3 separate regions of the Homo sapiens genome follow, and regions 2 and 3 are each linked to region 1. The links come from fine-mapping of genetic effects on plasma protein levels. Region 1 holds a variant in brackets. A gene starts in each other region. All regions are shown on their forward strands.

Region 1 (10,868 bases):
CATCAGACGTGAAGCCGCCACCTTGCCTTGCAAAGCAGGCTGCACCTCCTGACACACCTGCCCCTCCCTGCAAGAAAGGGAGGGGAAATCCCACCCAAGAGAACCTTCTCCAGGTTCCTGTGGGTTTCCAGGGTTGCAACTGAAGAAAAGTGTTAAGATTCATGTTCTCCTAAATTCTGCTTTTGTCCTGTGGCCAGTCCCACATTCTTAGTGCTATTTGCATAAGAGGTTGCTGTTTATCTTCCTATATCAGCCCCACTGATAACCCCTGTGGTCTGTTTAACAACCTATGAGGAGTAGATTACTTGATAAATGCCAGTTTTTCCAATATGCAAAGATAAACTGTTGGGGTCAGGGTGAGGGGTGGTGTGTTATGAAGGAGGGGACAGGTGGGGAGCCAGGACCCTCTTTTAGTGGGCTGGAGAAGTGTGAAAGAGCCTGATGAAAGAAAACAGGTAGCTTGTCACATACAACAGCTGCATTTATCATACGGTTGATCAGCTTCCTGCCCTCACCTACTTTTCTCCTCCTTCATGTGGACATGCAGAGTCTCTGAGAACATTTCATCAAGTGGGTTGCCTATGCCCACATTAATACAAGATGGGAAAGGGTGGAGGTTATCTTTGCTTTTTAAGTTCCCATCTTTTTCTCCCTTGGTCGTCTCCCACCCCTACAAGTTGTTGGCTGGTAAGCAATTGATGCTCAGAAAAATGATGTTCATCTGAAATCTTAAATGAGTGGACTTTTTCTACCTTCCCTGACTTTGCAGGTGCTTCTTGAAGAGCCAAGGAGAAAAGAAAACTTCTGACCTCATCACCTAGTCAATAAGCTGTCTGAGAAACAAACAAAAGAGTTTAGACTGGCTGCTAAAGCTAGGAACCCAGCTGATAGCTTTGTTTTGATGTCCTTGTAATGTTTGCGGATCGCAGAGGGTGCTATTTAGAGCAGGGGGCATCTACTGGGACAGACTCACTGGGAAGTTGAAACAGCTAGCTCAAAGTCCAAGAGATGCTAAAGATAGTGAAATACAGCCCAGGAATTGAGGGGGAGGGGGTTCCTCACTCAAGAAGGAGACTTTCTAGGAGGGGGCGGGCGTGGTATTTTCTAGGGACAGTATGGAATGAAGGGAAGAAGGTTGGCTTTAGAAGGAGGCACCCTGTGGGAGGCTGAGACAGGTGGGTCACCTGAGGTCAGGAGTTTGAGACCAGCCTGGCCAACATGGTGAAACCCAGTCTCTACTAAAAATACAAAAATTAGCTGGGTGGCAGGTGCCTGTAATCCCAGCTAGTCGGGGGAGGCTGAGGCAGGAAAATCGCTTGGGATTACAGGTGCCTGTAATCCCAGCTAGTCGGGAGAGGCTGAGGCAGGAAAATTGCTTGAAGGAGGCGGAGGTTGCAGTGAGCCCAGATCCTGCCGTTGCACTCCAGCCCAAGACTTTGTCTCATTAAAAAAAAAAAAAGAAGAAGAAGAAGAAGGAGGCACCCTGGATGAAGACTCAGGCTCCAGAATTTACTATCTGTATGTCTTGGGCAAGTGGCTTAGCTTCTCTGAGCCCCTGTTTACTTTTCTTTTGAAAATGACCACCTTGTCCATGGTAATGAGGATAAAAAACGTGTAAAGTGCATAGCAGAGTGCAGGTGTACTGGGTAGACATGTATGATTGCGCTGTAGCCCTGTTATGGCCCGGGGAGAAACTATGAAAGGAACCAGTGAAATCTTTTGTTTTGGGCACTGCTAAATTGATGATAGTACTAACCCTGTGCTAGCAGCCAGCTGGTGAAATAATAGGTGAATAATGTTAGTACATTGTGAATATAAAAGTTTCCATTTGCAAAGTGCTACTGCTGTTCTAAAGAAGCCACATTTCTAATAAATGATTGCTTAATCCTGTGATGCTGCCACAGCCCCACAGAGTTTGGGAATGTTTGGGAATTCTTTCTGAAGTGTGTGCCGCATTCTTTTGCTTTGCCTTTTGGGAGGGTAGATGTGACTATTGGAAATGGTCAAAATAATGCAGTAGCAAATCTGTTGACTATAGTGAGTGATAAGCACTGTCGGCTGCTGTGTCTGACTCGGAAGGCAGATTCTGGAAGGGGTGTGTGGGGAAGGCTTGTTGGCTCAGCACTGGGGTGAGTGTTGGCCTCACTTCTTAGGTGGGAAGTGGACAAGGCCAAGGGGCTTTTGATTTCCAGCTACTATGGCTGGACTCCCAGTGAGGAAGGAGTCGCTGCCATGGATTGCCTGGGACTGGGAAGACTCCTTTTAACTGCTGTAATGTTTCTGCATTTGTGGTTTGGCCTCCTGTGAGTTTGGGCTCCGGGGCGGCACTTCTGTTGTTAAAAGAACAGAAAAGAAAACAAAACAAAACAAAAAACCAGGACTGTCACTGTTAGATGTTGGTTGAGGCTAGAAAGAATGGATTGAGTTTTGACCCCCTACACCCCGGGGAGTAGGGAGGCCTGGGAGGCACAGTGGCCTGAGTTTGAATTCTGACTCTGCCTCTTTGGAAGGCTCTGGAAGGTTAAAGGAGCTTGTGTGTTCAAATCTTAGCCTGGTACCTGGCATATACTCAGCATGTATTTTTTTCCCCTTTCCTGACAATGTTCCTTGCCCCGAACACTTGAATAGTGGAGAGAGGAATGTTTGCTTTTCCTCTCCATTGAACCAACACTCGCCCATCCACTGAGCCCAAGATTCACCTTAGGATTGTCTGTTGGACTCGGCTCTTTTGTGACCTAACAGTGCAGGGGCCTTGTGCTGAGCTGCACATGCTCGCTCTCGCTGGTGCTCCCTCTCTCTCTCTCTCTCTCTCTGCATTATTTATAGTAAACCATATTAGAACAGAGTGTTAAAGAGGAAGGATGAGTCATTCCCATTGAAACCATTGATGACATAAATAAAAGCAAAATGCTTACTATGTGTTTTGTGCAGTATTTAAGGCCAGGTTGTGCTAATTTGAATGCTCCCAAACTGGATCTGTGAAAGCATACATATGTGGGAAAAAATTCAGGTTTAACTAGAGGGAAGTTATTTATTGAAAATCCATTTCAGTATCTGCTTTCTCCCTTCTATTTACTTCAGATCCATATTCATATCATGCTTGTTGTTCTGGCTAACGAGAGGGACTGGCTTATTCACTAGCTAAGGTTTGTTTATTTTCGGAAGGTTGAGGAATAGCACAGAGAGGTTGTCTAAGTGTCCCTGTCTCCATTCCTCCTCTTGCCACCTGTTGAGGAAGGCACTCTCCACCTGCTTTGCAGGCGTGGGCTCTCAATGTGTCCAAGAATCACAGTCAGAGCTGAAGGGCCCTTGGAATCATTTATTGCAGCATGCTCATTTGGGAGGAGTAAGTGGAGGTCCAGAGAGGTTCTGTGATTTTCCCTAGGTCACACAGCAAGCTAGAGGCAAAACCAGGACCCTCACTCCCAGCCCACTTTAATTCTTCCTTCACAAGCCTGCCTGTGACTGCCCAGGTCTGTTCTCTGCTTCTACCAAGGGGTAGGCAAGACTAGAATCTGACTTGAGAGCAGTTTCAGATCTTTGTCTGTGAGGGATGCTGGGGGGTTTCTGGCATGGTGACTTGCCTCCTGGGACACTCATTAACCTCTCTGCTGCTGAGCCTGAGCAGACTAATGTACATCAACTCCTTAGGATTTACAGACAATGCCCTATGTTGGGGGTTTTGAGACCCAAAGATTGCTAAGACATGGGACTTTTCCTTGAAGAGCTTATACTTTGAGTTAAAATATGTATGTTGATATCTATGACAGAGAATAGGAAATGGAAAGACTATGATATATATATTCAGAGTTGAAATGACTTCTGTCTGGAGTGATTCATTTTAAATTTTAAAACCTTGTTGAGCACTTACTGTCTGCTGGGCACCTGGGTAGGCCCTGGGAATACTGTGATGAGCAAGATAGACAAGACGTCTACCCTCCTGGGGCTTTCCTAATGGGGAAGAAAGATCCTTACTTAGCTAGCAGTCCTGTCCGTAACTGTGTAAGGGTGATTTTGATACATGTTGGGAGCCTGGATGAAGTAGCACATGAGTAGGATATTAAAGGATAAGTAGGTTTTGAAGACGGGGACAGAAAGAAGGAAAATTGTGGTCAGGGCCAGGGGAGAAAACAAGGAGTAACTTTCTTTGGCAGGAATGAGGGTGATTCATGCTGGAATGGTAGGCTGGGGTCAGACTGTGGTGCTATAAATGCGTGGAGAGAGATTAGAGAAGGCAGCATGAAGAATGGAGAGAAAATGAGTTTGAAGTTGAGCAGACCCGGGTTCAGATTTTCATGCTGCCACTTGCAAACTGTGTGATGTTGGCCATCAAGGACTGTGAACTGGCTGGGTGCAGTGGCTCACACCTGTCATCCCAGTGCTTTGGGAGGCCAAGGCAGGAGGATTGCGTGAGGCCAGAAGTTTGAGACTGGCTTGGGCAATATAGCGAGACGATCTTTACAAAAAAAAAAAAAAAATTAAAAATGCAGCTGTGCATGCCCATAATCCCAGCTTCTCGGGTGGCTGAAGAGGGAGGATGGCTTGAACTTATAAGTTCAAGGCTGTGGTGAGCTATGATCACGCCACTGCACTCCAGCCTGGGCAACAAAGTGAGACCCTATCTCTATTTCAACACAACAACAACAACAACAGCAACACACACCATGAACTGTAGCTTCTTCATTCCTACAGTGCAGTTATTGTGTGGGATAGCCTGAGGATTTGGGGTAGTGTACTTAACACACTCTGCACAGTGCCTGTAACAGTGTAGTTGCTCAATAAATATAACTGCTGTTTGTTTTAACTGCTGTTTCTTTTTGGACTTTATCCCGGGAGAGTTGGAGCCTTGGAAGGCATTTGAAAAGGAGAGTGACGTGACTGGAGTGCTCCATACTGATGTGACATCCACTAGGCATGTGTCTGACTGCCCCCTGCTCCTTCCCTGCCTTCACGAGCCTGTCTGAAAAGGAGTTTAGTGCGTGATCATCAGCTCCTAAGGAGACCTCTCCCCTGTATCTTGTACCTGGCACTCTACCAAGATTTGATGAGAGGACATGAAATGGACCCTTGCCACCTCTCGGTGGGCGGGGAAGCTGGGAGAGGGGCCTGGGGAGAGGGGGTCTTCAGCTGTCAGGATCAAAGGAAGTGACACTCTGAAGCTGGTCTGCCGGACTGTTACCCGTCTCTCTAACTCTCTTTTAATAGAAACCCAGTCTCCCCTCTTGCCTCCCTGATAGTGAACAGC[G/A]ACGCTATCTCCCGCGGGCCAGTCTCGGCTGTGGTCGTAGCACTACGCAATGTCTGCAAACCGACAGTGGCATGGGGAGATAAGGGCCCCAACGTTGTGTAACGAGGGGCATGGGCTGTTTGCCCGAGTGGCTCCTGGCCCCTGGGTAACTGCTAACCTCAACGGAGGAGCGGGCCGGCCTTGGAAACGCCGTTCCAGGGCCCCTCGCTGGTTCCACGGATGCCTTTTTGTGGTTGGATAAAGGAAGCTCATGTAGGCCGCCCACAGCGCAGCATGGCCTTGGGCTACGGGTGTTTGGTTGTTTTGTTTTTCTCTTTTCTTTGTCTTTTTTAAAAAAAGAAGTTGAAAGGGGGATAGTCTTGCTTGGCACCTACCACCTTTAACCCAAAACCAAATAAAACAAACAGTTCCTAAATATAAATTAAACTTCAACCTGCAGTATAGACATCCTCCTTCCCTGCCCGAAACCCACTGGCCACTGGAGGCTAGCTTTAAGAAATTGGTTTTGGAGACTCTGGCTTGAAAAGGAGCCATGCCCACTTGTCTCACGTCCCAGTCGCTGGCTCCAGGGGGCCGTGGTAGAACATATATTGTACTTCAGCTGCCTTTCCCCTCCAAGCTTCCTCAGCCACCCACAGCCCTTTCAGATGAGCTGAGCCCTAGCACTGTGCCCTCTCCCCTCTGCCCTCTTAGGGTGATAGAATCCACTACCCTGACATCTGGGGTTGCCCTGTTCTGCTGTGGTGGGAGATGGGCTGGAAGGGACTTCGGAGGCTCTCCCGTGTTCTGTACCACCCAGCTTCCCCTTGGATCCCTCCACCCCCGCAGCCAGGAGAGGGAAGTAACTGTTCTTTGAGCAGGACATTTCATTTTCAAAGTATTCTTGATGCCGCCCCCCCGCCCCACCGCCAAGAATTCTGCTCTGTGGGTGATACTTATAAGGTAACTATATGGCTTCCTTATTTAGGCAGCAGTTTCTCTTCTATGATTTTAGTTCCTCTCATGATTCTTATAACCCTCTCTCAGATACTTCCAGGATGATAAATCTTCTATCACTGTTTCATCTGATCACATCAGGGTGATTATATTTCGTGACATAACCAGGTGGCTTTAATCCGTTGGTGGAAGAACCAGGCTCTCACCTCCATTGTTTAAGATGTTATGTTTCTACTAATCTGTCCACTGAGTGTCTCCATCCTATTGTTTCCATTGCATGCTCTCAGGTTATTTCCTTTGTTCTTGGCTGTCTGATTGCTCCCAGAGGCTGCAGTTATTTTATTTTATTTATTTCATTTTTTGGTGGCAGTAGGGGATTGATCTCTCTCTTGCCTTTAGCTTGAATGGGTGGTCATTTCCAGGCTTACACATTGCTCCATGCCCACTGTAGGGGTCTGGCTTAGAGATGGTCGGGGGAGAGAAGGTGGTGATTTAAAAGATTTGGAGGCGGTGGCTTACATTGATTTTAGCTTATCTAACCCTTTAGCTAGAGGCTGCTCTTCCCTCAGAGTGTCCAACTAGCTGTAACTTAAAGCAACAGAGAAATGTATATCATCCCTTTTCTTGCATTAATTAGGGCTGAGAAATTCATTATTTAGAGGGATAAGAGCTCCGGAGGAGGAGGGTTTTTTGAACTAATGTAGAGATCTGTGGCCAGCTGTGTGATTCTCAGGTAGCAGGTGAGCGGGTGGGGGTTGATGAGAGGGGTGAGAAGGAGCAGGTGCCAGGGTCAGGCAGGGGAGGGAGCCCCCACTCCGTGCATCATCCCAGAGCCCTGTTCCTCCAAGCCCAGATTAGACACCCTTCTCCACGTGGGGCCTCAAGTTAGAAATCCTGGGAGGAGGCCTTATTGCTCAGGATCATCTGGGAATGTTGCTTTCTGGGTTTAAAATACAGTCAATGTTTAGATGAGCTGCTGTTCAGGCACATGGTCTGGTTAGCAAAGGGTTAAATCCTGCATCCCGTTTTTAGTCATCAAGCTAGCTCAGATCTGCCCACCTTGGAGCCCTGTGCTTTCCTGCCTTAGTGGGCAGAGTCTAGGGGACCTGTGGCATGTTCAATGATTGAGGACTCTTGTCCAGATTCCAAAAACCTACTGTGATGATGCTGTTCTGAAGCTGTGGTAGGCGGTGATTGAGTGGAGTGTGTAGTGACCCTCAGGAATTCTTCAGAAGTTAGGATTTTGACGATACCTCTGATAAGTTGGGTTTTTAATTTGCTGGTTTATCTTAGAGTGGAGGCTGTGGCCCACAGCAAGTAGTACATTTTCCATCTCAGCCCAGTGCATGGACAAACGTACCTCAAACCAAAGGTTCAATGAAACTCTATTTATCTTTACTATATGCTCTGGTATCTTCTCTTCCATTCTATCTTATTTCATTTAAGAACGTTAATGAAGACCCACTAATGGATTGCCACCCATGGTTCGAGGAGGTCCCCCAAACAGTGAGGCCTTAGCCATAGGTATTCAATTCAAAAAGCATTTACTGAGCATCACTGTGTACTAGGTGGTTGCTAAATGCTATGGGGGTAATGCAGAGAAATTAATAAATCCCTGTAAGAGTTCACTGTAAAACAGAAATGACAGCCATATGTGTATGACTTTGTGTGTGTGTGTGTGTATATATATATATCAGACTGTATGATTAAATATTATATAAGTGAGGTATGGGGGAGCAGAGGAGAGGAATTGAATTTTGAATTTTGATTGAAGATTCAGGAGGGCTTCATGGAGGAGGTAGCATTTGGCCAGGTTTTAGAGAATGGCTAGGCTTTGGACAAGTGGAGACAGGAACTGCCATTTGGAGGTAGGAGATGAGCTAATGTGTGGCAGTGTATGGGTGGGGGCAGGTGCCTGTATACAAGGTAGTGTGCTGGAATGGGGCGATGGGCATGGGGTAGGATGGGAGATCAAGCAGGGAAAGTGGATTGGGGCCAGGTCCTAGAATGATTTGAATACCAAGCTAGCTTTCTGGACATTTGTAAGGCGCACTTGATAGGGGTTGGATCATTGCGATATTATTGGAAGACAAAACTGGGGAGGGTGTGAGACCATGTGGCTGCTCAGAATGCAGAGCCCCTCTGATGTCCTCAGCCTTCTACGTATTTAGTGATGGGGGTGGTGGTGGTAAAGAGCCTTGCAGACAGCCTGGCTTGGGTGCTTGCTTGAAGTTCTTACGCCCACTAACTCCTGCCCTGCTCTGTGGAGCCTGCTGAATGGGGCATTAGGCTAGTCACACACCTGTCCTTTTTCACATTCATGCTGTACCCTTTGCAAACATTACGCAGCAGTGCAAACTCAGCCCTGGGCCTCAGAGGAGCCAGGCGTGGCCAGGAGAGTGGGATTTGGAACGGAAGTGCTTTTGTTTTTGGCATTCACTACTCCCCCACCCCCACTGGCACTTGGATTGTCCTTCTTTTTCTCCTTGGTGTCTCTCATCCTGTCCAGCCTTCAAGACCTCCTCAAGTCAGGCTTCTCTGGGAAGCGCTGTCTGTCTGTCTTGGTGCTTGCTGGCTTCCTCTTCTGTCTCCTGTGCCATCTCCAGTTTGCACCATTTGAGTATAAGCTCTGCTGCCTCGTTTGAGTTTAAGTTTTATCCCCCCAGCCACAACCTAAGTTCCATGAGGATAGTGATTGTGGTTTATCTTCTCTCCCTCAGCTGTCTGCTGACACCATGCTGAATACATAGTAGGTACTCAGTAAATAATAGCTAATTGAGCATTTACTATGGACAAAGCACTTTACTTGCATTAACACATCCCATCCTCACAACCACCTGTGAGGTGAATCCTATTAAAAGGAATACTTGGGTGCTTTCAGAGTTATTCTCTCCAGCTTTGGACTTCTTGTTTCATTTGCCCTGAGAGCTCCTCAACTCTGTTGATGCTGTTCTTTCAAAGGTTGCTTGTGACCTCTTAGTTCTCAAGAGCACTGTATTAGGTTGGTGCAAAAGTAATTGCTATTTTAGACATTACTTTCAATGGCAAAAACTGCAATTACTTTTGCGCCAACTAATACTTTCCCAGACTCCAGTATTGGCTCCATTGACCCCTCCTGTTCCTGCCAACTTCTCCCCCTCCTCCTCTGGTATTTCCTGGAACTCCCTCCCTAGGGTCAGTGCCATGTGGTGCCTGGAACTCCCTGGGATCTGTGTTTGAATCCTGACATTGCCACTTTCTAAGTGGCAAACACTTTGGCCACCTCCCCCTCTTCCTGAGTCTGTTTCATCATCTGCAAAATGCTGGTAGTTTCTCTTCTCACGGGAAAGATGGTGGTTGTTCATCGATGTCTGTTGAAACCGTGACCCTCTCTGCTGAATGTAGAAGAAGATGACCTTACCAGTTCTCCTGTCTCTCCAGTGTCTTTCTTGACAATCTTGTGGTTTCCACAAGCAACCCTCTGTGGGTGATTTCCAGATCTCTACCTCTAGTTGTTTTTCGTTTTTTGTCTTTTCTTGTGTTTCACACATTCTTTTCCAGTAGCCTCACGGGCACACCAGTCCTGCAAGGATCTAGAATGTGATGTGTTTGAGCTAGTTCAACACCTTCCTCTCGAATCGTCTCCTGTGTCCTCATGTTTTGTGGTCTCTGCCCTCTTCCCAGGCACCCAACTGCAGACTTTGGCATCATCTGTGGCTCCTGTCTTCCCTTTGCCTTCCATATCCACCATTTGCCTCTCCAGCCTACTTAACCAGATGGCTGTCCTGATTTCCTCACCAGCCTTCCTGCAGTGCACCCCTGCAAGGCTCATCACCCCACTTCCCTGAGCAGAGTAGGGCTCTGATGGGGTTGCTCTCCTGCTCTGAACCCTGCAGTGGCTCACTATGGCCTATTCTAGAGAAGAAACGAGAGAATTCTTAGCGTGGCATTCAAAGCCATCCGGGATCCTAGATTCCAGCTACATTTTCACTCTTCATCCCTTTCTCTGCATATTTCTTAGAATGTACACCCCTGAAGGCAGGGACCATCTTTTTCACATCTGTGTTACAACCTTTTAGTCCACTCTCTAGCATATGGCAACTCAGCAGATGCTGCTGTTGAGTAAACTCTTATGCTTCCCTTCCCATGCCATATCCTTCTCTGGTCATCGCAACAGGGCCAAATCTCTCATGCTTCAGTGTAAATGCCCTCTCCTTGCAGCATCCTTTCCTGGGGCATTCTTCCTCCTTGCATCCAGTTGGAAATAATATGTCCCTCCATTGGAGCTCCCACACCAGAAGAGGTATAGATAAAGCCAGATACTTCTTTTTTTTTTTTTTTTTTTGATACAGAGTCTCACTCTGTTGCCCAGGCTGGAGTGTAGTGGCATGAACTTGGCTCACTGCAGCCTCTGCCTCTTGGGTTCAAGTGATTCTTGTGTCTCAGCCTCCCGAGTAGCTGAGATTACAGACATGCGCTACCATGCCTGGCTAATTTTTGTATTTTTAGTAGAGATGCGGTTTCGCCATGCTGGCCAGGCTGGTCCCCAACTCCTCGCCTCAAGTGATCTTCCTGCCTTAGCCTCCCAGAGTGCTAGGATTACAGGTGTGAGTCACTGTGCCCGGCCTGGATCTTTTATTGTTTGTATTTCTGTTCATTTCTTCCCTAAGAAACCCCACGTTTTTGTGGGCAGGACCTGGAATCCTAT
Region 2 (10,868 bases), not on the chromosome of region 1:
ATTCAAAACATCCCTCTCTCCCCCATTTCTGTAATTAGCATCTACTCATTTTTAACATTGGGTCTCATATCATTCCACCTTTCCCAGGCCTGCCCATGCAACTCCCAGAAGGCTAGCCAACAACTGGTGGTAACTCACAAGACTCTCTTACAAAACCACTTACATGGTCTGGATTTATAGTTTAATTCACTTGTAGTATTTTTAATGAGTAAATTTATTTTCTCCAAAATGATTATAAGCTTGTTATAGACAAGATCACTCACTCTACATTTTTTGCATCACACACTGAACTGTAATTTCCTGCTTAGAACTGAAGCTGCCACTAGTAAGAACTGATTAACATGAGTTGAAGTAGATTAAAGAGCAAATAAACCTGGTACTAATGGGTAAAAAGGAATTAGGAGCATCCACATGGCTTCTTTCTTGAATTCCTGGATTACCTTTCCCTGCCTCTTCCAGGCAGCCCCAAGGCAATAAAGCAATGGAGGAAGGCCTGTGGAACAGGGCTACAATCCATCTGCTTATCCAAAATGCCTGGAGACTGCAAGAGTCTCTGAACCTGGAATTTTTCTGGAAACCAAGTGCATAGACATATTAATACTCACACCCCAAAAACAAGCAGGACTGATGGCAGCATCATGTAAATAAATACATTACTATTTTCCCAGTGAAGATTAGAAATATTTAAATTAGATAATAATGACTATAAATAGCCTTATGTCAGTTCAGATCAGGATTATAGCACCAAATAATTTAAGAAAATTAGCTTTTGGGGCCGGGCGCAGTGGCTCATGCCTGTAATCCCAGCACTTTAGGAGATCAAGTGGATCACCTGAAGTCAGGAGTTTGAAACCAGCTTCGCCTACAAGACAAAACCCTCTCTCTATGAAAAATACAAAAATTAGCCTGCTCTAGTGGCACATGCCTGTAATTCCAGCTACTTGGGAGGCTGAGGCACGAGAATCGCTTGAACCCACGAGGCAGAGGTTGCAGTGAGCCAACATCATGCCACTGCACTCCAGCCTGGGCAATAGAGCATGACCCTGTCTCAAAAAAAAAAAAAAAAAGGAAAGAAAGAAAAAGAAAATGAGTTTTTGGATTTCAAAATTGGAAAAAAAACTATCGTGGATAACTCCTAACACCTGAAAGCCACTAGGGCGCGAGCAGTATAAGGAAACAGTACTAATCCACTGACAAAGCATTTAATGTACAATTTGATTAATTCCATGATGGATGCCCAATAAAGCAAATTAAATAAAAACAGTCTCTGCTTTCTCATGGTTAAACATAAACTCTGAAAAAAAAAATTAATCAACCGAGGAAAGAAGCCACCCCAAAAATTTACACTAGTAAGTTTCAGAAAAACAATTACACAAACCTAAAATATTTATAGTAAATTTTATAATTACACTATAACTCAAACTCATCAGCATCTCTCCTTGTTTAAAGTTCTCTGCTATATCTGTTTTTTCTAATGAGAAAAATCAATGATAACTTAATCCACAATTTATACAAATCTGTACATACAAATATGTGTTTGTAACAAAAGGTAGACCCATATAGTATTTATAAAATGCACATCTACAAGGAATAATGTAACTGGTGAAAGGTGAAACAATATATGCTCAGAAGTCAGAGGAAGTATAACGCTTCTGCCAACTTAAATTTGTTCTTTCCAAATCCACTTATTTGTGAAAGGTCATTTGGCAGAGGTAAAATCACAATCTTTCACTGAAGTTACTTGAGCACAACTTTGAAAAACCGTTTGTCAGAAAATCTTGTTAAGCCTCCAGTTAAGCAGTCGTTCTTATAATATTACCATGGATTAGGTCATTTATAATTTATCTTTAGTCAAACGAACACCATGTGGTAAAGCCTGGAAGAAAGTCTGGGTTTATTTCCGTTTGTCCCGTTGTGGGGAATTAGGACCTAAATAAATGCAACAAGGTGCCCCTAACTGCAAAGTCACACGCAGTGCTTTTCTCTGCCTTCCTGCACGCTGCTATAGTGTGCCAAAGGAGACCAGCAGAGGGGCTGAAAGGAGTCTGAATCACAGGCCCAAAGGCCCAAACCCATTACCACATTTCTCTAAAACATACATGCTTCTCGATTTACGATGGGGCTACATCCTGACAAATTCCTCCTGAGTTGAAAATATATTTAATATACAGTAGAGTACCTGTTGTTTACTCTCACGATCACATGGCTGACTGGTCACAGCTCACTTCCATTGTCCAGCATCCAGAGAAAGTATTTTACTGCATATTATTAGCCCAGGAAAAGATCAAAATTCAAACCTTGAAGTATGGTTTCTACTGAATGTCTATCGACTTTGCACCATTGTAAAGTCCAAAAGTCCTAAATAGAACCATTCTAAGTCGGGGACTGTTGGTATATGCCATAAAACTTTTTTTAAAAGAAAAAAAGGAAAAAAACATCTATTCTTTTTCCTGGTTAAGTCATTCAGATCTTGGGTTCATCATCCTTAATGAAATAAAATAATGTCCATATTATGGAGGTGTAGTGAAAAACAAAACTAACTTGCAAAGCTCTTTGCGAAGTGCTTAACACACGTTATGAACATCACAGATAATGATTATAAACTCCTACTCTCAATAACAACCCCAGGACTGCCAAAGGCAAGCAGGCAAGCACAGTCCCAGGGATTCGGGAAACCTTCATTAGTCTCACGCCAGTTCCTCTGTTGGTGAAAACCCCAGCAAGAGCTGAGAAACAGCATTCTGGGTTGGACACATGGAGATAACTAGGAGGCCAGGACCTTCCTCTCAAGAGGAACCGGAACCAGAACTGGAAGTCCAAAATGAAATCTAAATCCACTACCCTCCGTCTTTCTCAACTCAACTGAAAAGGACAGGATTAGAGATCTACGGGTCTTAGACATATGCCACTAAGATCAGTAATTAACTGCTTTCTATGAAGCAATTTTGATAACTGTCTTGTGAATAAATAGCTATCAATCAGATATTCATAGTTCAGAAGACTATAATGGAGTGGAAATCAAAATGAAAGATGAATTGAACTTTCTATATCTAAAACCTCATATAAGTAGCATCACTCAGAGGAATGTCAGAAATCTCTTATAAGAGTAGATGTTGACAAACATAATCATATACTATAAGAAAAATTGTAAATAGAACAGCTTCAGACTTGCTATTCTCTTTTGTTCCCATCATGTCCAGTTAATTTTACTTTTGCCTGCCTTACTTTTTTGACACTGTCTTGTTTGTGTTAACATCCTTCAGAGAAACATTTTAAGACTTTTCAGTAAGTCATGCAACCACAAATAACTAGAAATAGGAATCCAGTAAATGCAAATATAAGTCGAGGAATAAGGAGATCTTCATTCTATTTGTGATTTTTACCTACAATCTTTTGCATGGCTTTACGGGTGGGCTGAAGGGCTGGATGGCTAACCTTGGTTCATAGTTTGTGTGCTATTTTTGATTTTTTAAATATTAAAAAAGTTCCTAGGTGAAAGTTATGAAAACATTGCATCTATTGGGATTATAGATATTTAGCATCTTCTGTTTACCTTCTGAAATATTTTCTTGGGGTTCATGTAGTTATAGAAAATTAACAATTGATTTCTCCCCAGTTCTTCTCTAGTGCTTAAATCTAAATGTGGTGCTTGTACAGGCCACTAGGGAGAGACATAGAGTCTTCATATCAGTTTCTTGGCAGTTGTGTGACATGTTTCATAGCAAGGACACAGCAGTTTCACTGAATGCATTAATGACACATGCCCTGTCAAGGCTCTATTCACCCACTGGGGAACGACACTTTAATGGAGCAATGAAATACTGCTTTGTGGTCTATGGAACTCAGAGATGATGTTTCATATGGGAAATGATGTTTCATCACATAGGAAAGGAACCCACATCACATGCAGAATACTAACCCATATTCACCATACAGAATATAAAAATGGTTAAATATGAAAAGCGACATTTGCAAACAAAAATGCATAGTGATTTTCACAGCAATGGTAAAATTTGCCATATCACCAATGGCAAATTTTACATCACCAACGAAGACACTTTTGAAAGTTAAAAATAAGTTAACTTTTTTAATCCTCCAATCCCATACCTATACATAACACACGTAAACACACACACACACACACTCAAGGTACATTAATTCTAGACTCACCCAGCAGTGAGTGACTCTCATACAGGCTATTGGCTTATCAGGGAATGTTTCTCATTTTACTCTCTACTGCACATTTTCTTACTGTAAACCAAAGTAAGTGACCGTAACCAATACAGAGATGTTGCCTTACTAAATCATACTTTTACTAGTTTTGACTTTGCAGAAATAGCAAATAGGTACTGCAAAATCAAGGACTCAAATTATCAGAAGCGTTATTGAGCCGATTATTACATTTCTGCGGTATTTAAGAACAGAAAGATATTTTCATCACTATAGTTACGGCAATGTAAGTATAGGCACTGAAAATTATTTTTGTGATTCACAGAATGCAGTCTGTTCTATTTCATGTATATTGTTTTTACTCAAGAGGCATTCCTTTAACCCCTATATTAAATTATTACACATTCCAACATTTTAATGTTTTCCCAAAATTTAAATGCAAAGGTAGTTTGATTTCCAAAAATTAGTCTTCTCAATCTTTAAGTGTATTTCAAAATATAAATATAAATAAAATATTTCAAAATATAAGGCTATTTTCTACACATTGTGTATGTGTTAATCAACAGTCAAATTAAAGTTGACTGTAACACACCACAGGTACCTCTCCACTTGCCACCAGTTGAAATAAACTACCGCAGTATAGTTCCAGCAAGGGGTACTGCAAGTGTTTGAACTGAAATGTCGAATATAACTTCTTTAGGAACTCTCTTAAGCATACTCTATATGGTTATGGCAGGTATGAACTTTTTAGATAAAGATATACTCTTTTGGAAGAGCCAGTAAGAAGTAGGAACACACACAAATCCTTTTTCAAAATCAGGATGCCTCAAAAGTATTTTGGCAACATTTTCAGGCAAAGGATTAAACACCTCTTATTTAAAAGAAAACAAAACAAACAAAAAACCCAAACAAGAAAAAAAAAAACTTAGTTTGCAGTATCTCATGACCAGATTTTAGGAATGAAGAGCTTATAAAGTTGAAACAAGCCTTGCATTGCTTGATTGTGATCTAACTGACTCTAATCTCCCGTTACATCTCAAGTCTGACCAACTTCAAGTGAACTCTGAAAGCTCTGGAGCCTGGTTACTAAAGTCCCTGACACTTTTTTTCTAAAGTCGCTCACAGCGCCTGGTGCTCTGCAGACTATGAACACTCCAGGAAAGTAAGGCTGGGTTGACTGATCACCAGTGTCCCAGAATCTGTTTGGAGTCCCATGAATCAGCTGGGGAAAGAAACGAGCATTTCCCGACCAAAATGAACTCATACTCTCCAGAGCCCCGCTGACTGGGCAGGGTTCAAGACCCCTTGGTTGCCCCAGAGGAAACCAGTCTGAAATAGATTTCGGGATCTCTCACTGGGCACCTCTCCGGGCCCTTCACTCGTGTAACTTGCTTGCCTCTCTAGTAACAACTTTCTATTTAAAAAGAAGAAGATTTTTCTCCAAAGCAGCGTGCACTGAGCTCAGTAACTTTGGATCCCACGTACACAAGCTTAAAGCACACACACTTTCCCCCGCGCAGGTTCTCGGGTCCGCCGCAGACCCTAACGCAAACTCTCGGGTTCTCCGCAAACCCTAACGCAGACCTACCGTGGCCTCGCCCGCGTCGGGCTCCGCGTCCGAGAGGTCGAGTCCGGACTCGAAGGCGGCGGCGGCGGCGGGCGCCTCGCGAGGACCCGGGAGCAGCGCAGCGGCGAGCAGAGAACACGCCACAGAGAAGAAGCCCAGCAAGTGCATGGTGGAAGGACCGGGGGTGGGGGACCGGTCCGCTGGCGGGGGCAGGGGTGGGGGCGCGGGCGCCCCTGCGAGGCCGCGGGCCCCTCCTGGTCCCTCTCCCCCGGGCTCCTCCCGGCGACCCCCCCTGGGCGAGCCGGAGGCGGCGGGAGCGGGTCCGGGGCTCCGCGTTCCCAACTTTGCAGGGCGCCCTCCCAGCCAGTGCCGGGGAAAGGCGGCGGGTGTCAGGTAAAAGCCTCACAGGAAACCGGACATCCGAGCTCCCCGCATTCGGAGCCCGCGAGGTGAAGCGAGGGCGAGGGAGGACGCCGCCGCGGTCCGCGTCGGTGTAGCTTTTTGGAGAGGCGGGGCGGGGGACACCAGAACACCCCGCGATGTTCAGCCCCTCCAAACCCGCCAGAGCCCTCGTCCCCCTCCTCCCTCCCCTTCCCCGAAGTGAGAGGAGCCGGGCCGCGGGCGCTGCGGCGGGGGCGCTGGCGGCGGTGCCGGGGGCGGGAGGAGGGCGGCGGGGCGGCTGGCGGCGGCGGGGCCCGGGAGCGCCGCGGCGCAGGATCCTCCAGAGCGCGCCGGGCTGAGCGGCGGCGGCGGCGGCGGCGGGCGCAGGGGCAGGGCATGACTGACGCGCCCTCTGCCTGCGCTTATGTGAGAGAAAGCGGCCGAGGGAGGGAGCGTGCCGAGCCCGGGCTGCCCTCCCCTCTCACTCTCCCTCGGAAGCCGTCTCCCTGGAGCTCCCCGTTTCCCTCGCCTCCTCCCCGGCGGCCCCACCTCCCCCGGCCCCCCTCTGGATCTCTCCCTCCCCGCCCCTGTCCCCTGCGGGGAGCGGGCGGCCGGAGGGGCAAGTTCAGTCCCGGGGCTGGCGGTTGGCGGGACCGGCTTTAGAGGTGATGCGACCACCCTGGACCACGTGCAGCGGGGAGAAACTGGGCACCGTGGGGTGGAGGGAGCCCCCGCTTTATCCTCGGCCACTCCCGAGTTCTTGTCCTCCCTCCCGCACGCCTGGCCCCCAGAGCCCTGCTCAAAGTTTGGAAATGTCCTGGGGGTTGTAAAAGTTCCAAGAAAAGGTCATCACTATGTCAGAGAACCCTATGGGACCTCGGAGGGGTCCCCTCTCTCCCTTGGTCTGTGTAGTTGAAAGTTGCCTGATGATCCAAGAACCGCAGTTCTCAGGATGCAGTGCAGGCTGTTGGGATGGATGCTAATGATCCCTTTGGAATCCTAAACTTCTGACAGGTGAAGAGAAGGGCCAGAATCTTCGTGGAGAGTAAAGAGACACATTGTCAGCTTCTGCAAGAAGTTGGTTTACTTGAAAAAGGGGGTGATAAAGAGAGATGTGTGTGAGACATATTCCAGAAAGGATGTGTAGCATCCAAAGAAAAGTGACTGCATTTCCCCATTGGAAAAGCACTGGGGTTTCCGTTGGGCTGGTGGCATTGGCTAGCTGCCTCCTTGGGGCAGGGTGAGCAGGTTACAGAGGACCACGCTAAGGGGTTTCAACAGTGTACAGAACATCAAAAGTCTGCCTTTCACTCCCAATCTACTTTTAAGTACACAGATGTTATAGGTCCATAATATCTTACCGGAAGAAGAGACTTTCTTATCTGGTTCAACTCTAGATTTGAAACTCCTCACCCATAATTTACTTGAAGGCTTAAATATCTCAAAGGACAGGGAACCTTCCATTCTGTGTGGCTGTTCACTCCCTTTATTGATGAGCAACACTGCTGAAAAGCATTTCCTTCTATCTCTCTATTGCTTTTGACTCCTGGAGTTTTACACAATAAATCTAATCTCACTTCCACAACTGAGTCCTTCAAATATTTTGAAAATATTTATCATGGTCTCCCTAAGCTAACTTTACTCCTGGCTAAATATCCCTTTTATTCCCCAAGATGACAGTTCCAGTTTCCCCCCTTAACCATACTGTTAGCTTTCCATGTTCATGAAGTATGCGGTTGAGAACATGGCTCGGTACTTAGTGCTGTAATGAGCATGCAGAATGGACAGTATGCCTTTGTTGATACAGCCTTGGATTGAGTTTATTTTCTGGCAGCCAAATCACAGTGTTGACTCACACTACCCTTAAAGTCAACAAAATTCCTCAATAATTTTTCATATGTACTGCTACTTAGTCACGTCTAAATTCCCCTGTATTTGTGGAGTTAAGTTTACTGTATCCAAGATGCTTTTTTATGTATCTTTATGAAATTCCATCCCATCAGACTCGGTCCATGATCTAGCCTGTTGAGATGTTTTGTGATTTGGAACATGGTCAGTGTATCACTCTCTTGCTGTCTTCCTGCTCTATGCATATTTGATCAGCCTGCCATAGTTATCTTCAGACATTGATAGATCTGTGAAAAGGGAACAGCTAAGGGCAGACTGGGGTAGGATTTGAATAGAAGGTGGAGTTTCCATTCAACCATTTGCTATTACAATGATTCTAAACTTTGATTGCACTTGGCATCACAAAAGGAGATTTTGAAAAAACAGATGCTTGAGTACACCTTCTGCCTTTCTGGCTTAACTGGTCTAACTGGAGTAAGGCTTGGACATCAGGATTCTAATAGGCAAACAAAATTGAGAACCACAGGCATTTCCAACACCCACAGGCCTAGCAGCGGGTGAAGACTGGAAAATCAACAAACTCAAAATATATCCAAAATATATTAATATCATATTAACTACTGTTTCATTTAAATACAGCAGTAAGCTGTATTCAAACTTTTTTCTCACAAAAGTGTTATCTTCCTGCTGCTATACTTTGAGTCAGAAAATGCTGGCAAAAAGTTTATTTGAATAAAAAAAAGGTCTCCAAAAACAATCATGCAGTAGTTGTTTGTCTTAAGGTTGGTCGGGCACGGTGGCTCACGCCTGTAATCCCAGCACTTTGGGAGGCCGAGGCGGGTGGATCATGAGGTCAGGAGATCGAGACCATCCTAGCTAACACCGTCCATCTTAGGGAGACCATGATAAATATTTTCAAACGTTGGTGAAACCCCGTCTCTACTTAAAACACACACACACACACACACACACACACACACACACACACACACACACACACACACACACAGAATGTCTTAAGGTAAAAACGAATAGTTGCTCAGGACTTTTTGGTTTTTTTTCTTCCTTACCCCCTGGAAACACTTTTTGCCACTAGCAGATTTTAAAGGTTGAGAAAGTCCTTTTCACTGGTTTGTGAGTTCATCACTAGCTTCATGCAAGACCTATTTTACAACAGGTCTTCTAAATCTGGTTATTCAAAAAGCATTGCTCAGTCAGTGGAGAAAGAGAGGTAGCAGGGCCCCAGCCAGAATAACACCTCTTTTACATATTGAGTTTTTGTTTTCTTTGATGATAGGTTTTGTTCTTTGTGTTTTGTGTCTGTGTGTGTGTGTGTGTGTGTGTGTGTGTGTGTGTTTGTTTGTTTGAGATGGAGTCTCGCTCTGTCTCCCATGCTGGAGTGCAGTTAGAGTACAGTGGCACCATGTCAGCTCACTGCAACCCCTGGGTTCAAGCTATTCTCCTGCCTCAGCCTCCCAAGTAGATATGGGAGATGATAGTTTTGGATGGCAAAATAATGATGATAATATATCCATTGTACATTCTCTAATATCCATTCTGACCATCTACTTTATTTCTCATTTGTTATTCCCTACCTTCTTGCTTTGTTAGTTTTACTTTGTTGCTTCATTTCAAGCTTTTTTAGCTGAATGCTTAGTTCATTTTTCTTCTTTTTAGTTTAAAAATACAAGTTTCGGGCCATGTGTGGTGGCTCACATCTGTAATCCCAGCATTTGGGGAGGCTGAGGAAGGAGGATCACTTGAAGTTACTTTGAGACCAGCCTGGGCAACACAGCAAGACCCCATCTCTGCAATCAATCAGTCGATCAATAAAATACAAGTTTTGTCTAAATTCTGCTTTACTTGTATTTCTCAATTTTGATACGTAGTGCTTCCTTTGGCAAACAGTTGCAAATATATCTTAATTTGTTTATATTTTTAACCCCCAAATTATTTGTGTTTTCTTAGTTTAGGGATATATGATTTTTATCAATTTCTAATTTTATTATATTTAATTTTTGCTATAAATGATGTTGCTTTTAGAAATGCATTCAGGCTTTCTTTGTAGTCCTGGACATGGCTGATCATTGCAACTAATTCTGTGTGTGCTTTATTTTTGTTGGGTATTAATTTTGAGCTTATTATAATGTTCAAATCTTGTTTGGGAATGACGTTAAAATCTCCAGTTATAATTGTTGACATGTTTTTCTGTTTCTGACAGTAGTTCTTCCTGTTATTTTTTAACATAATGGGATACTATATCATTTTGATCTAATTTTCTTCTTGGTAGTATACAATGTCATTTTTTTAACTTCTGATATTTTTATTTGAAGTTCTACTTTTTCTGATATTAAAATCATAGGCTTTAAGAATTGAGATCAGCTGTGAACATGACTTAGGTAAAACTATGAACCAGTTATGTACACATGACTTAGTTGTTTCTTCTAGGAAACATTAGCCTGGAAAAGATAAGACTGCAATCCAGTATTTAAATTCAGTGTTTGCTTCAAGAAATGCTGGCAAAACAATATATCGAAGATAATAATATTCTGACTCTGGTAAACAGCCTGCTTATTAATGACAGTTTTCTTACCCAAACTCTCACTTACAGATGTTAACTGATCCTAAACTACTAGATCATGAACGTTGCCCAATCTTACTCAATTCCCCACTTTGAAAGACCCACCTTAAACTACTCGTGTCCAGACTCCAAAGCTCTACAACTATTCTGCTTCTGACTTACCCAAGACACCCTAAGACCCTGTCCAGGTGGCACTCTCCCTTACTGCTGTAGGTTCGGCTAAATGGAACTTTTGTTTATTGAAAACTTTTCTACTGATATTTTCGGGTGTACAACAACTTGGAGGTCCCATTGAAATCCTTCTCCCTAGTAGCTCAAGCA
Region 3 (10,868 bases), not on the chromosome of region 1:
TCAAAAAATCAATGAATCCAGGAGCTGGTTTTTTGAAAAGATCAACAAAATTGATAGACCACTAGCAAGACTAATAAATAAGAAAAGAGACAAGAATCAAATAGACGCAATAAAAAATGATAAGGAGAATATCACCACCAATCCCACAGAAATACAAACTACCATCAGAGAATACTATAAACACCTCTATGCAAATAAGCTAGAAAATCTAGAAGAAATGGATAAATTCCTGGACACATACACCCTCCCAAGACTAAACCAGGAAGAAGCTGAATCCCTGAATAGACCAATAACAGGCTCTGAAATTGAGGCAATAATTAATAGCCTACCAACCAAAAAAAGTCCAGGACCAGATGGATTCACAGCTGAATTCTACCAGAGGTACAAGAAGGAGCTGGTACCATTCCTTCTAAAACTATTCCAATCAATAGAAAAAGAGGGAATCCTCCCTAACTCATTTTATGAGGCCAGCATCATCCTGATACCAAAGCCTGACAGAGACACAACAAAAAAAGAGAATTTTAGACCAATATCCTTGATGAACATCGATGCAAAAATCCTCAATAAAACACTCACAAACCAAATCCAGCAGTACATCAAAAAGCTTATCCACCATGATCAAGTGGGCTTCATCCCTGGGATGCAAGGCTGGTTCAACATACACAAATCAATAAACGTAATCTAGCATATAAACAGAACCAATGACAAAAACCACATGATTATCTCAATAGATGCAGAAAAGGCCTTTGACAAAATTCAACAACTCTTCATGCTAAAAACTCTCAATAAATTAGGTATTGATGGGACGTATCTCCAAATAATCAGAGCTATTTATGACAAACCCACAGCCAATATCATACGGAATGGGCAAAAACTGGAAGCATTCCCTTTGAAAACTGGCACAAGACAGGGATGCCCTCTCTCACCTTCCTATTCATCATAGTGTTGGAAGTTCTGGCCAGGGCAATTAGGCAGGAGAAAGAAAGGATATTCAATTAGGAAAAGAGGAAGTCAAAATGTCCCTGTCTGCAGACGACATGATTGTATATTTAGAAAACCCCATTGTCTCAGCCCCAAATCTCCTTAAGCTGATAAGCAACTTCAGCAGTCTCAGGATACAAAATCAATGTGCAAAAATCACAAGCATTCCTATACACCAATAACAGACAAACAGAGAGCCAAATCATGAGTGAACTCCCATTCACAATTGCCTCAAAGAGAACAAAATACCTTGAAATCCAACTTACAAGGGATGTGAAGGACCTCTTCAAAGAGAACTACAAACCACTGCTCAATGAAATAAAAGAGGATACAAAGAAATGGAAGAACATTCCATGCTCATGGATATGAAGAATCAATATCATGAAAATGGCCATACTGCCCAAGGTAATTTATAGATTCAGTGCCATCCCCATGAAGCTACCAGTGACTTTCTTCACAGAATTGGAAAAATCTACTTTAAACTTCATATGGAACCAAAAAGGAGCCCACGTTGCCAAGACAATCCTAAGCAAAACAGAACAAAGCTGGAGGCATCACACTACCTGACTTCAAACTATACTACAAGGCTACAGTAGCCAAAACAGCATGGTACTAGTACCAAAACAGAGATATAGGCCAATGGAACAGAACAGAGTCCTCGGAAATAATACCACACATCTACAACCATCTGATCTTTGACAAACCTGACAAAAATAAGAAATGGGGAAAGGATTCCCTATTTAATAAATGGTGCTGGGAAAACTGGCTAGCCATATGTAGAAAGCTGAAACTGGATCCCTTCCTTACACCTTATACAAAAATTAATTCAAGATGGATTAAAGACTTAAGTGTTAGACCAAAAACCATGAAAACCCTAGAAGAAAGCCTATGCAATACCATACATGCCATAGGCATGGGCAAGGACTTCATGACTAAAACACCAAAAGCAATGGCAACAATAGCCAAAATTGACAAATGGGATCTAATTAAACCAAAGAACTTGTGCACAGCAAAAGAAAATACCATCAGAGTGAACAGGCAACCTACAGAATGGGAGAAAAATTTTTACAATCTATCCATCTGACAAAGGGCTAATATCCAGAATCTACAAAGAACTTAAACAAATTTACAAGAAAAAATCAACCCCATCAAAAAGTGGGTGAAGGATATGAACAGACATTTCTGAAAAGAAGACATTTATGCAGCCAACAGACCATGAAAAAATGCTCATCATCACTGGCCATCAGAGAAATGCAAATCAAAACCACAATGAGATACCATCTCACACCAGTTAGAATGGCAATCATTCAAAAGTCAGGAAACAACAGGTGCTGGAGAGGATGTGGAGAAATAGGAACACTTTTACACTGTTAGTGGGACTCTAAACTAGTTCAACAATTGTGGAAGACAGTGTGGTGATTTCTCAAGGATCTAGAACTAGAAATACTATTTGACCAGCCATCCCATTACTGGGCATTTACCCAAAGGATTATAAATCATGCTGCTATAAAGACACATGCACATGTATGTTTATTGCAGCACTATTCACAATAGCAAAGACTTGGAACCAACCCACATGTCCATCAATGATAGACTGGATTAAGAAAATGTGGCACATATACACCATGGAATACTAGGCAGCCATAAAAAAGGATGAGTTCATGTCCTTTGTAGGGACATGGATGATGCTGGAAACCATCATTCTGAGCAAACTATTGCAAGGACAGAAAACCAAACACCGCATGTTCTCATTCATAGGTGGGAATTGAACAGTGAGAACACTTGGACCCAGGGTGGGGAACATCACACACCAGGGCCTGTCGTAAGGTGGGGGGAGCGGGGAGGGATAGCGTTAGGAGATATACTTATTGTAAATGATGAGTTAATGGGTGCAGCACACCTACATGGCACATGTATACATATGTAACAAACCTGCACATTGTGCACATGTACCCTAGACCTTTAAGTATAATAAAAAAAAATTGGTGTGGATGTATGTGTGGGTTCACATTGCTAAATGCATAGAGGAAATTCTGGAAGGATATGCAGAACCCTCTGGAGAGGGGAGAGGGATTAAAGGAATGATGAAGAGGGACTTTCCTTTTTTTAATTCTTTAAATTTTTATATTTGAAAATACACTAAGTATTTGTAACTTTCATAATATTAGGATAAATTCTTTAATTTTTGTGACATTTTTGGTAATTTTATTTTTTTGGTAATTTTTTACTTTTTTTTTTTTTTGAAATGAGAGTCTCACTCTTTCACCCAGGCTGAAGTGCAGTGGTGCGATCATGGCTCACTGCAGCCTCGAACTCCTGGGCTCAAGCAATCTTTCTGCCTCATTCTCCCAATTGCTGGGATTACAGGCAGCGAGGCCAAGGCAGGAGACTTGCTTGAGGCCAGGAGTTCAAGACCAGTCTGGGCAACATAGTGAGACTCTATCTCTACAAGAAAAATTTTTTTAATTAGCCAGGTGTGCCTGGGCATGGTGGCTCACACCTGTAATCTCAGCACTTTGTGAGGCCGAGGTGGGTGTATCACCTGAGGTCAGGAGTTTGAGACCAGCCTGGCCAACATGGTGAAACCCCGTCTCTACTAAAAATACAAAAATTAGCTGGGTGTGGTGGTGCACGCTTCTAATCCCAGCTACTCAGGAGGCTGAGGCAGGAGAATTGCTTGAACCCAGGAGGCGGAGGTTGCAGTGAGCCGAGATTGCACCATTGCACTCCAGCCTGGGCGACAAGAGCAACAAACTCCATCTCCAAAAACAAACAAACAAAAAATTAGCTAGGTGTGGTGGCATGCACCTGTAGTCCCACCTATGTCAGACCTCTTAGGGACCACAATTGGAGTCCCAATTGTGCAGAACAACATTGAGTCACAAATGTATATTCGTGGTAACCTTCCCTAGCCAGAGTCTTATGATTAAAACAAAAGGTAAACGTTTTAGGATGCAAGCAGCAAATCTCTAGCAAGTATTGGTGTGATTCAGTAGCCATTGTACTCTGAGAAAGAAGGTTGTCAGTGGGAAGGCAATTTGGGACTCACTGCAGCAAAACCTCCTAACTTGAATCTGCTGGGCACAAGTGAGCCTTAATCTTAATGTACAATAAAACAGCCAGGCCCACAAAGTCCTAGATTGTGGGTTTAAATAATCAGGCTCAGGGCCACCGAAACAGGATGATAGACATGTTTATGGATTCAGTATTGAGTTCTGGGAGCCAGCAGCCACGTCAGCAGAGGTGGAGTGTGCCCTACCTTTGGGCAGAATCCAAGGCTTTTAATTATAGATAAAGTCACCTGCTTCCTGATTTATGCAAAACACTTAGGGAATGCCAGTTATTGAGCCATCACAACAAGATAGCCATTTAAGACACCATTAAGATAAGGGAACAGCTTTCTGCCTCAAGGAAACAAAATATATTTCCCAAAGTTCCAAACTGGCACAGGCCTTTTTCCTATTCCCCTTGCCAAGGCCACCTGTCCTCTTCTCTGCACTGTTGAGTTGTTGAGTGTTCTCTACCTTCCTCCCTCCCCACTTGGTTTTCCACCCCCTCCCTGGAGCCAGAATCACTTAAGTGCCTCCCACAGGGCACCTGGCTTACATGGACACTTGAGTGGAAGTTTGTTAAGAATAGCTGTGGCGTTGCCCCTCTATTCCACGACTGTTCTCAGGCCTACTTGTGTATTTTTACCCAGTATCACTTATTTTTAAATGACAGAAGTTTGGAGCTTCTCAGGCAATGTGATTTTCCTGTGGCCTAAACTGCCTTAGGTAAAGCATCGAGACTAACCCAAAAGGCTATTGCTGGGTCTCTCGGCTCCCTTCCTTATTATCACCAGCAGCCGTACCTTTTCACACACCTCTGCATTTTGCCGTTCCACCCCACCGTCTCTACCAGGACTCAGTCCCATGTGAAGGTGGGTCCTGGGTATGGCAGAGCCTTCCTCATTACCCTCTGCCTCCTCGACCTGCTGTTCCCTCCCTCCTTTCCTGTAGGAGAGCTGCCGCTGTGGGGACAGGTGGGAGTAGGTCAGGAAGCTGGATGGAGGTACACATTTCAAAGTTTTATGTAAAAAATTTGAGTTGGTGGAATTACCAGAACTAGGAGTGAAGCCTTAGCAGGTAGGCCTTTCAGAAATAGTGAAAATGAGTCCCCAAATCTCAATGGTGAATTTTTCTGAGAAATGTTACAGAAACATAAAGTGACAAATTTTTGTCTTTATATTGATAAGATAGATAGATTAGTAGAAATTGAGAAGAGATTGTCCAGGTTTTTTCTGTTGCTTATTTGTATAAGCCCAGTACATTGACGGACTATATTGGGAGTCCCTAAGCAAATGCCTGCAGGGACCAGGCAGTTAATACAGCAAACTTCAGAGGCTCATCTGCTTTAGCCAGTTCTTGCCATGGTATGGTGGAATCATTGTTGCCACATCTGATTTCTCAAGAGAAGCTTTAAAATCCAATTTGTATGTGTGTATGTATGAGTATGTACATGAGAAAGCTTTCAGTTTTAAAATGTTGGCTCAGATTTTTAAAAAGCAGACCAAAGACTTATATTCCACCTCTGCTCTAGACTTAGAGAATCTGTTCAGGATAAAGCTTAAAGAAAAGATGACAATGGAAAAGAGTCATTGGTCAAGTATTAAGTACTGACACTTAGGGTTTCCTGAATATAGTAGTGAGTGCTACTTTAGAAGAGATTCCCTCTAGTTCAAATGCAGTTACAATCTCCAAATACATGCTAGCAACTCACGATTTAAATTCTCTTTGACATAATTTGTATGGTTCAATCTCCCTCATCCTGCTTTTCTTCTTTTTCTTTCTTTCCTTTCCTTTCTTCCTTTCCTTCTCTTTCCCCTCCCCTCCCCTCTTTTTGTTTTTAACAGATGGGGTTTTACTATGTTGCCCAAGCTGGAGTGCAGTGGCAATTCAGAGTGCAGTGGCAATTCACAGTGTGATCATAGCTCACTGCAATCTTGAATTCCTGGCCTGAAGCTATCCTCCAGCCGTAGCCTCCCAAGTAGGTGGGAATACAGGCATGCACCACTGTGCTCAGCTCTGCCCTCCCTTTTTAAAGGTCAGACTGAAGTTTCAGTTTTCTGTATCCATAGAGCTGACTTTGCTCAGGAAATTTACAACTTACCTAATTTGAACGCAGCTGGCCAAGTCTGTATTTCCCTCCAGGAATGTGCACAGTTGTGTTCAGACCGTTTAGCAGGTTGGGGTGTGGAGGAAGACAGATGAATAGTAGGGGCTTTACTCCAGCCTCTAGCTGGGGATTTTCTAAGATACTGTCTTCAGAAAAGGAAACATAGCTCGAAGTTGTACCTACATGGAAGGACCTCATCCTCCAGGTGGCAAAAATTTGTAGTATGCCTGTTAGAATGAGGTTCCTTCCTGAAACTTCTGGGAGATCTAGAATTTAAAGCTATGTCATTCTCTTGTAGGTAATCAGAAATCAATTGGAAATTCCTGCTTGAAGAGATAGATATTCTTGCCCCACCTCAATCCTTCCAGCACAGATTTGGGAGATACCCCCCTTTCCAGTGAAGGCCTAAGTGTCCAGTGCCCCCACTCACCTTCTGAGGCATGTAGGGCCGCACAGACAGCCAAGGCCACGATGGCGAGTCCTCTCTGCTGCATTCCTGCCTGCCCTACTGGCACTGACAGCAACACAAGTGAGGCTGTTCGATCAGGAAATGAGGCTAAAGGTGTCCTTGGGCACAGAGAAAGTGCAGAGGAAAAGTAAGCCAGGTGGCCCCGCCCTGGGAGGTGTTCAGGGTATCTATTTCTCATGTTTCTTTCCTTAAGACCAGGCTCCTCCTCGACTTATTAAGCTCCTAACTTGTGTTCATCCTGCCTGGGGGTCAGGGGATGTCAATGGAGATCTGGCAGCTGGCAGGGTCACTGTGAGGTGGGGTGTGCATCAGAATCATTTGGGGAACATTAAAAAAAATCAATCTAAATGACTCTCCCCTTTCCCTGATTTGTAAACCAGAACTCCCAGGTAGGAGACCAGTCATTTGAATTTTGTAAAAGCTCTATAGGTGATTCTGATGGACACTTATGTTGAGACCCATTGCATAATCAGTTTTTAAGTAGCTTATGGAAACCATGAGTTTCTGGGGACAAGGGTGACAAGTCATAAAAAATGTATCTTTGTGGAAAGATATGGAAGTATTAAACCCCACTTTAGTCTTGGTTCACAGCCAAATTGTTTCCAGTGAAGCTTTTTACAATAGCTTATTTAGGAGAAAGACAGGAAGGGGGGCAATGCCTTGTAGAAAAGAGCCCAAGAGCAGGTGTGAAGAGGCATGAGCGCTAGTGCAGCTTTGCTGCCAATCAGCTTTGTGAATAAAAGCATGGGGTAGCATGAAGATAATTGGATTCTAATTGTTCCTCATCTACTAATAAGTTGTATAACCTCAGGCAACGTACTTAACTTTGCTGTAAATAACAAGTCAGACTAGATGACCTCCAAAGTCATGCCATGCTTCCTCTAGAACTGTGTTGTCCTATGTGGTAGCCGCTAGCCCACATGTGGCTCTTGAGCACTTGAAATATGAGTAGTCCAAACTCAGATGTACTATGGGTATAAAATTCACACTGGATTTCAAAGACTGGGTACAGAAAAAAATATAAAATATCTTGTTAATAATGTTTATACTGTTTATTGATTACATGATAGTATTTTGGACTTTTTGGGTTAAATAAAATATATTATTAAAATTAATTTCACCCATTTCTTTTTATGTTTTCAAATTACTGCTGTGGTTTGAATATTTTTTTCTTCTCCAAAGCTCATGTTGAAAATTAATCCCTAATAGTGCTGGGAGATAGGGCCTAATGGACAATGTTTAGGTTATGATGGCTCCACCCTCATGAATGGATGAATGCTACTATAAAAAGGGCTTGTGGGAATGGGTTGGTACCTTCTGCTCTTCTGCCAGGTGAGTACACAATGCTCCTTCTCTCCAAAAGATGCAGCAAAGTGGCATCATCTTGGAAATAGAAACTGAAATCACTGGAGCCTTGATCTTGGACTTCCCAGCCTCCATAATTGTAAGAGAATACATTTCTGTTATTTATAAATTGCTCAGTCTCGGGTTGTGGTGTTATGATATATATATTGGCTTTTATCCATGGTTCCTGGCTTATAACTCCCATAACCCTTGTTACAGTTTTTTTTTGTTGTTTGTTTGTTTGTTTTTTTTTTGAGACAGAGTCTCGCTTTGTTGCCCAGGCTGGAGTGAGTTTCACCATCTTGGCAAGATGCTGGTCTTGAACTCCTGACCTTGTGATCCACCCGCCTTGGCCTCCCAAAGTGCTGGGATTACAGACATGAGCCACTGTGCCCAGCCCAGTCTTTTTTTTATATTATAATGTTGGGGCACTTTAGGCTTCAGGAACAGGCCTCAGGAAACGGAATCTCTCTCTGACCTTCTGTTTTTCTTTCACCTGCCCAAGGCAGGACTCTAATCTGATTGTGGGTCATAAGATCCTCATTCCAGAAAGGGTTCTGTCCCATACTCTAGAGGAAGGAATGCTACACAGGCCAAGAAAAGCCTGAACAGGCAGGACTTGCTGGGTTTAGATTATGTGCTTTTTGTCTAATCACATTTCTACATGGTTGTTAATCATGCCTATGTAATGAAGCCTTTGTAAAACCCCAAAAGGGCAGAGTTTGGAGAGCTTCTGGATAGCTGAACATGTGGAGGTTCTTAGAGGGTGGCGTGCCCAGGGAAGGCATGGAAGCTCTGCATCCCTTCCCCCATACCTTGGCCTCAAGCGATCCTCCTGCCTTGGCCTCCCAAAGTGCTGGGATTACGGGCATGAGCCACTATGTCTGGCCTTCATCTGTATCTTCTGTACTGTCTCTTATAATAAACCGTTAAATGTAAGTATTTCCCTGAGTTCTGTGAGCCACTCCAGTGTTGCAGGAAGTCAGGAACCCCGAATGGAGGGACCAACCGGCTGAAGCCATGGCAGAAGAACATAAATTGTGAAGATTTCATGGACATTTATTAGTTCCCCAAATTAATACTTTTATAATTTCTTACGCCTGTCTTTACTGCAATCTCTGAACATAAATTGTGAAGATTTCATGGACCCTTATCACTTCCCCAATCAATATCCTTGTGATTTCCTATGCCTGTCTTTAATCTCTTAATCCCATCATCTTCATAAGCTGAGGAGGATATATGTCACCTCAGGACCCTGTGATGATTGCGTTAACTGCACAAATTGTTTGTAGAGTATGTGTGTTTGAACGATATGAAATCTGGGCACCTGGAAAAAAGAACAGGATAACAGCAATGTTCAGGGAACAAGAGAGATAACCTTAAACTCTGACTGCCGGTGAGCCGGGCGGAACAGAGCCATATTTCTCTTCTTTCAAAAGCAAATGGGAGAAATATCGCTGAATTATTTTTCTCAGCAAGGAACATCCCTGAGAAAGAGAATGTGTCAGTGAGGGTAGGCCTCTGAAATGGCCACTTCAGGGGGTGGCCATCTTTTATGGTCGAAGCTGTAGGGATGAAATAAGCCCCAGTCTCCCATAGTGCTCCCAGGCTTATTAGGATGAGGAAATTCCTGCCTAATAAATTTTGGTCAGACTGGTTGTCTGCTCTCAAACCCTGTCTCCTGATAAGATGCTATCAATGACAATGCATGCCCAAAACTTCATTAGCAATTTTAATTTTGCCCCGGTCCTGTGATCCTGTGATCTTGCCCTGCCTCCATTTGTCTTGTGATATTCTATTACCTTATGAAGCACGTGATCTCTGTGACCAACACCCTATTCATACACTCCCTCCCCTTTTGAAAATCACCAATAAAAACTTGCTGGTTTTACGGCTCAGGGGGCATCACAGAACCTGCCAACATGTGATGTCTCCCCTGGACACCCAGCTTCAAAATTTCTCTCTTTTGTACTCTGTCCCTTTATTTCTCAGACTGGCCAACACTTAGGGAATATAGAAAAGAACCTACGTGAAATATTGGGGGTGAATTTCGCCCGATATCTGGCTGAATTTCCCCCATACTCCAGCCAATTAATCAAACCCATAGAGAGGTTGTGGGAACCCCAACTTGGAGCCAGCTGTTCAGAAGTTCTGGAGGTCTGGACTTGTGACTGGTGGGAAGTAGGGGGTGATCTCATGGGACTGAGCCCTCAACCTCTGGTTCTGGCACTATCTCTTGGTAGATAGTGTCAGAACTGAATTGGAGGACACCTAGCTGGTGTCCGCTGCTTGGTGTATGCACCAATTTACCCCCTACATATTTGGTTATAGAAGTCTTCTGTGTTGATGATTTTTGTGGTATGAGAGCAGAGGAAAAACAGTTCGAGAGTTTTTTTCCTCAAACAGAGATATTCTGTTATAGCAGCATAAAACAGACTAAAACAATTACATATGTAATTGAAACCCAGAATATTTCAAATCACATGGGTAGATCACATATTTGCATTGGGTGTTGCTGCTTTTGAAGATCAAGAGCAGGTGTCCAAATTTACCCCAGCTATCAAGTTACATTTAACCAAGCTCCAATTCACTATCAAGAACCAGAGTTATAATAAGGAATGGGAGCTTTGGAGAGCAACAGACTTGCAAAGATAGTGACCTCTTGAATGAGAAGACCCACAGCAGCATTCCAGCCTTTCCACTAAGCAAAGGGACCTTACCACAGGTCTTGATAAAGGAGGACAGAGAACCAACCTGTGGAGGTGACAAAGACCTGTGAAATTACACACACCAGCCATAACCACAGGAGCCCCTCTGGACCAAAGCCGTGTGCTCTGAAGATAAGAGTCAGGAGGCTGGGTGTGGTGACTCATATCTGTAATCCCAACACTATGGGAGACCAAGGTGGAAGGATTGC

Which allele goes with the higher level. Positions count from the first base shown, and alleles are read on the strand shown. Strength reflects both the effect of a copy and how common the allele is.
For the plasma level of the protein whose gene starts at base 6,516 in region 2, G is the high allele of the variant in region 1 and A is the other (weak association).
In carriers of allele A in region 1, the plasma level of the protein whose gene starts at base 6,707 in region 3 tends to be lower than with G alone (moderate association).

What was found. PIP is the chance, under the fine-mapping model, that this variant and not a neighbour inherited with it causes the effect. The UK Biobank Pharma Proteomics Project read protein levels with antibody pairs (Olink). The fine-mapping took linkage between variants from a reference panel, not from the people measured, so its PIPs are less certain.
Region 2: VEGFC starts here. The variant in region 1 is fine-mapped to the plasma level of the VEGFC protein (UK Biobank, PIP above 0.99).
Region 3: it holds the start of CCL28, and the variant in region 1 is fine-mapped to the plasma level of the CCL28 protein (UK Biobank, PIP above 0.99).

What each region holds. Positions count from the first base shown.
Region 1 is chr11:114,077,655-114,088,522 of GRCh38, forward strand. The region is part of intron 2 of ZBTB16 (zinc finger and BTB domain containing 16); the gene reads left to right. Among named protein-coding and RNA genes, the nearest start is that of ZBTB16, 23 kb to the left of the region's middle. The variant G/A (reference allele first, on the strand shown) is at 5,246.
Region 2 is chr4:176,786,407-176,797,274 of GRCh38, forward strand. VEGFC (vascular endothelial growth factor C) reads right to left here and starts at 6,516. Exons shown (of 7, transcript NM_005429.5): 1 at 5,759-6,516. The coding sequence starts at 5,905.
Region 3 is chr5:43,405,685-43,416,552 of GRCh38, forward strand. CCL28 (C-C motif chemokine ligand 28) reads right to left here and starts at 6,707. Exons shown (of 3, transcript NM_148672.3): 1 at 6,569-6,707. The coding sequence starts at 6,632.